Linked DNA regions of Homo sapiens: region 2 is linked to region 1. Evidence: fine-mapped expression QTL. Tissue or cell type: whole blood. Region 1 holds a variant in brackets; the other region holds the start of a gene. All regions are shown on one strand. Distances are between the middles of the regions.

Evidence for each region. PIP is the estimated chance that this variant, and not a neighbour inherited with it, causes the effect.
Region 2: it holds the start of CHST13, and the variant in region 1 is fine-mapped to the expression of CHST13 in whole blood (TOPMed, PIP above 0.99).

What each region holds. Positions count from the first base shown.
Region 1 is chr3:126,551,861-126,554,613 of GRCh38, reverse strand. It overlaps C3orf22 (chromosome 3 open reading frame 22), which reads left to right. Exons shown (of 4, transcript NM_152533.3): 2 at 1,184-1,312; 3 at 2,492-2,617. The coding sequence starts at 1,224. Among named protein-coding and RNA genes, the nearest start is that of C3orf22, 5.7 kb to the left of the region's middle. The variant G/A (reference allele first, on the strand shown) is at 1,632.
Region 2 is chr3:126,522,914-126,525,666 of GRCh38, reverse strand. It overlaps CHST13 (carbohydrate sulfotransferase 13), which reads right to left and starts at 1,512. Exons shown (of 3, transcript NM_152889.3): 1 at 1,238-1,512. The coding sequence starts at 1,334. RefSeq lists enhancers at 125-625, 626-1,126, 1,187-1,687, 1,688-2,188.

The DNA of each region.
Region 1 (2,753 bases):
GCTCACCTAACTCTGCTCACCTGGGGTGCTTTAAAATGTATGTACAGCCGGGCCAGGCGCGGTGGCTCACGCCTGTAATCCCAACACTTTGGGAGGCCGAGGCGGATGGATCACCTGAGGTCAGGAGTTTGAGACCAGCCTGGCCAACATGGTGAAACCCCGTCTCTACTAAAAATACAAAAATTAGCCAGGCGTGGTGGCAGGCGCCTGTAATCCCAGCTACTTGGGAGGCTGAGGCAGGAGAATTGCTTGAATCTGGGAGGCAGAGGTTGCAGTGAGCCAAGATCATGCCATTGCACTCCAGCCTGGGGACGAGAGCGAGACTTCGTCTCAAAAAAAAAAAAAAAAAAACAACAGAAAAACAAAACAAACAAAAAATGTATGTACAGCCTGGGCAATATAGTTAGACCCCATTTCTACAAAAATATATAATTAGTGGGGCATGGTAGCACATGCCTGTGCTCCCAGCTACTCGGGAGGCTGAGGTGGCAGGATCACTTGAACCCAGGAGGTTGAGGCAGCAGTGAGCCGTGATCAACCACGGCACTCCAGCCTGGGCGGCAGATCAAGACCTTGTCTCAAAACAAACAAACAGAAAACTAGAAATGGACTTACCATATGACCCAGCAATATATCTCAGAGAAATGAAGACTTATTTTCATGCAAAAACTTACATCTGAATATTAACAGTGGCTTTGTAAGTGCCCCAAGCTGGAGGCCTGAGAAGCTGCACAACCGCACCCTAGAACAGTGCTCAGCAGCAGGAGGGACAGACTGTGGGTGAAGTTTGGGCTGATCTGGAAGAAATGGATGAGAAGGAGCCAGTCTCAGAAACACACCTCGTGTGCAGTTCCTCCGCATAGCGCTCCTGAAATCACATGGCTGCCCCATGATGAGGACAGATCAGTGGCTGCCAGGGTTGGGGAACCGGGCTGTGGACAGGCGTGGCTGTGGAGGGGTAAGCGTGAGAGAGCCTTGGGGAGAGCGTCTGGTGAGGACCTTGATTACGGTGGTCACAGGAAGCTACACGCAGGAGAAAATTGAACACAGCGGTGCATGCACAGGGCAGTGATGCAGGTCATTTGGCGGCCCGCAGGCACCCCCAGCCCTGCTGGGTACTCATCACTCTGCCTTCTGCCCCCCACCACCCCTGCCCCCTCTGACGCCTCCTCTTGTCTTCCAGCCATGGCTGAGAGGTGTGCCTCAGCTTAACCCACTCAGTGATGGACTCCAGTGCCTGCAAGAAGTCTCACCAGAGTAAGAAGTGGAGGATCCAGGCCCAGGAGAATTTTGCCAAGAAGTTTCCGTACAGGTGCGGGAGGCTGACACCTCTGGAGACAAGCCCTGCCTCCCCCAGGTCACCCCAGCATCCTGGGAACTCAAATGCATTCTGTGGGGCTGCAGCTGGGAGGGGGTTTTGTCCACAGGGAGACCCTTAGCAGCCCTTGCCCAGCTGACAGTCTGGGGTCCGCCTTCGTTACCCCCATCACAGCCTAAGCCGAGGGGCCTCTGGGTGGGCTCAGGCCTCCCTGGGTCATCCCAGAGCCCAGGCCAGCTGCTTCCCCAAGTCACGCGAGGAGCATGGCCACAGACGACTGCCCCTCCTGAGCTGTGTTGGAATTGGTGTGCTG[G/A]GCACCCATTGTTTGTGAGCTCCTGGGACTCGCAACTAGCCAGGATAACGGGCAGCCCGAGGGGGCCTGGGCCAAGTCTCCACAGGGCACTTCACATAAGGACAGAGCCACGGGCCAAAGAGGCAAAACAAATGCAAGGGAAATCTTGCCAGCAATGCCTGGGGCGCAGGGCAGCTGGCCTCCCACCCGCAGGACAGCAGGCAGCACCTGGCACTGGGGCTCAGCTTGGCACCGTGCAACCTCAAGCTTCCCACTCCATGCTCACCCCCCACCCCAGAAGCAAGTGTTGTGCGCCCAGCAGTGGCCCTGGATGCTTGGCAGGGCTACCCACAGGGACCACGGGGGACCACCAGGGCAGCCACGCTCGAGGGAGGTGGGGACGATGAGCTCCATGCTGTGTCCCTGTGCCGGGCCAGCTGAGCACCTGTTCTTGTCCTTGCCCCAGGAAACTGTAGCCATAACCTTGCACCCCATTCTGTCCCCCACCGCAGACACCATCACATGAGGCCCAGGTGGCAGGTACACACCACACAGAGTGGCCTCAGGTTGAAACCAGGGGAGGCCAGCACCCAGGGGCTCAAGTGCTCTGCACCGTTTGGCTGCTGTGGCCATGACAAGGCTCTGGAGCAGGCTGCAGCTTAGTTCCCACCTCCTGGCTGTGGAACCTCTGTGCCTCAGTTTCCTTGTCTGTAAAGTGTGGGTAACACCTGCCTCACAGCATGCTTGTCAGCTGACATATGGGCTAATATTTGTGAAGCACTTAGAACAGTGCCTAGCAGATGGAAAGTTCCAGATGAGTGAGAGTTACTTCAGGAGGCTGGTGGATGGTGGCCATGTTGACATTCCAAGTGCTGTTGCAGGTTGTCGTGGCTGACAGAGCCCGACCCTGAGCCCCTGCAGCCCTGGGAGGTCACAAACGACTCGAACACGGTGCAGCTGCCCCTGCAGAAGAGGTTGGTGCCAACGAGGTCCATCCCAGTCCGAGGGTAAGTCCCTGCCCTGATGCCACCACCCCCACTGGCTGTGTGCATGCTGCCTGGCTTTCTGTCCCCCAGTTTTGCATGCAGACGTTCATGTTATCCTCCCAGCACGCGCCACTTTAAAGCTGAGGAAACTGAGGCA
Region 2 (2,753 bases), 29 kb after region 1:
AGTACTGGGTAAACATCTGTCTACTGAATGACTCGGTGGACAGAGGCTGTGGCAGCCACAGACACTGAGTCCACACCCCAGACTGCCAGGAGATTGTCTGCTCAACACCACCAGACAGCTCACAGAAGGGGTTGTGGGGGTGCTGGAAAGAGACACCCCAGCCCTATCCCATGGGCTTGGGGAGGCATCCAGGTCTGACCTGCTGTGTCTGGACACACAAGGGGCAAGGGGCAGTGTGAGGGTCAGGGGGAGTGGGCAGAGGCCTCCCCAGGCCCTGATATCCTCAAGTCTTGGGCCACTCCCACCCCCACTGCCCAACATCCCCGCCCACCCTGGACCTAGTTACTTACTCCCTGGGACTGTGTCTGCCAGGTTCCAAGGGTGGGGCCCAGGATTCTCAGAGCCCACACTGGGGGTGGGGAGGCGGACTGAGTCGTCCCACCCAGCACGCATACCACATACAAGGAAAGGCAAACAGCCCTGAGGTCAGGAGACCCGGGCGCTGGCTGGGCCCCTCCAGTCCCAAGTAGATTGTATAGCCAGCACGTTGCCACCACACCTGTCTCCCCACTCTCTGGCCCGCTTCAGATTGTGTGAAATGGGTTGATGGGAGGCTTCACATGAGCTGAGGAGAGACTCAGAGCAAAGACTCAGCACCGGTGGAGCCCAGGGCACTCAGCTCTGCGGAGTCATGACTAACTGCCTCAGTTTCCCCAGCCAGACCACGAGTGGGTGCACAGGAGTCCCAAGCCCTACCCAGTGTGGATTTCAGGGTGGAGCAGGGAGTGGCACCCACTGCACAGTAGGACAACCAAGGGACCGGACCGAGTGGCCCAAGCTTCCCCTCCTATGCGCATGCGCCCAGCAGCGCTCATGTCCAGGGGCCGTGGGGTGCGCAGGGGAAGGGGGTGAAGGTAAGGGAGATGGCCTTCCCGGATTGGCCAATTGTCCTCTACCCCCCACAACTGACCCCGGTCTCCAGGCACCGGCTGTGGGACTCAAAACAGTCACCGCTCTGGGAGTGGGGAGGTAACTCCGGAGGAGGAGCAAGAGCCTTTGCTCGCGGGGGCGTCTAGAGCCTTTCTGTGCCTCACCAGCGCCCCTGCCCGCCACCCCTAGCCCCAGCCAGGAAGGAGACAACAGGTGTCCCCCGCGCTGTCGAGGGGTCAGGCCGCGGTGGAAAGCGCGAGGAGCCAGGTTTGGTTGGGGGTGCGCGGCTCGGCCGGCGGGCACTCACCCGGGCGCAGGGAGCGGGGCGCGGCGCATAGGAGCAGGAGCGCGGCGCCCAGACAGGCGGCCGCCAGCACGCGCCGCCGGCAGCAGCGCCTCCCCATGCTGTGCCGGGCGCGCGGCGGAGGACAGTCCGCTGGATACGGCTGGGGGCGGAGTTGCACTGGCCCAGGACCCGGCCCCGGCAGCGCAGCGCCTACCAAGACGCGCGGCGCGGCGCAGGGCAGGGGAGCACGGCAGCTGGACCCCAGCCCCACCAGCCCCTGCGAGTCGCTGGGGACTGAGGAGGCGGGACACGGTGGGGCCGCAAGCCCGCTCCTCTTTTCGTGCCCCCACCCTCACCCAATGGAATGGGGCCGAAGTCCAGGGCGCTAGGGCGGAGACTGATTGGGGAAGCCCCTCGCCTCTGGGCCCCGCCCCTAGGGTTTGCCCAGGGGTGCCATTATCCACCCAAGGCCAAGAGGCATTGTCGCGGTGGCGTGCCCCACCCCGGGCGGTGTCCCCTTGCCTTTTTGCTGCCTTAGATGCCAGGGGCCCAAGGGCTGATCTGGGATGAACCAAGGAGCCTAGTAGAGCGTTGCCCTGTCCATGGCTCTCCGGGACCCCCGCCCTCAGTAAGAGGCCTAAGAGTGTCCCTCCCTCCCCGACCCAAGGCTACCCTGCAGCCTTGCTTTCCTCCAGGGTCTCCAGGTCCTGCCTGAATCTAGCTCATGCAGGTGGCACTAGCCTTTGCACAGAGAGGTAGGGTCTCAGCTTACATCCCCCGGGGAATGGAGCTTGTGCCTCATCGTGTCACCCACAACTTCTCTGGGCACCACGTGAGCTCTGAGGACTTGCCAGGGACTGTGTGTGTGTGTGTGTGTGTGTGTGTGTGTGTGTGTGTTGGGGGGTGGAGGGGGCGAGGTGAGAGTAAAGTCCAGCCTTTGAAAGACACACACATCCAGCTAGCCCTGTGGGCAGGAGCCCACGTCTAACCGCAGGGTCTTGCTGCCCAGAAGTCAGGCTAGCAGGGAACGGGAGGGTGCAGCTGGCACTGGGTGCGCGGATGAGTGCGTTGGAAACAACATTTAGCAGTGTGAGTGCATGGGATAGGGTACTACATTACACTGTAGGTTTTTTTTGGAGTTTTTTGTATAAATGTAAGGGACACAAGTGCAGGTTTGTTACATGGAGATATGCAGTGGTGAGGTCTGGGCTTTCCGTGTAACCATCACCTAAATAATGTCCATTGTACCCATTAAGTAATTCCTCATCCCTCCCACCTCGCTCACTCTCCTACCCTTCCAAGTCTCCAGTGTCTATTATTCCACACTCGAAGCTCCAGTTGTTAAACTGTTCTTGAAAAATGTGGTGACTCCAAACCCACCTGGTGCCGCTTACTGCTGTGGGAGATTAGGAAATTAACTGCACCTCTCTGTTTCCCATTTTCCTGTACGGGGGGATAATCCTAAACCTCAGTGCTGTGAAGATTAAATGAGATACAGGAAATGTTTGCAACAGTGTCTGGCACTCAGTGAGTGCCA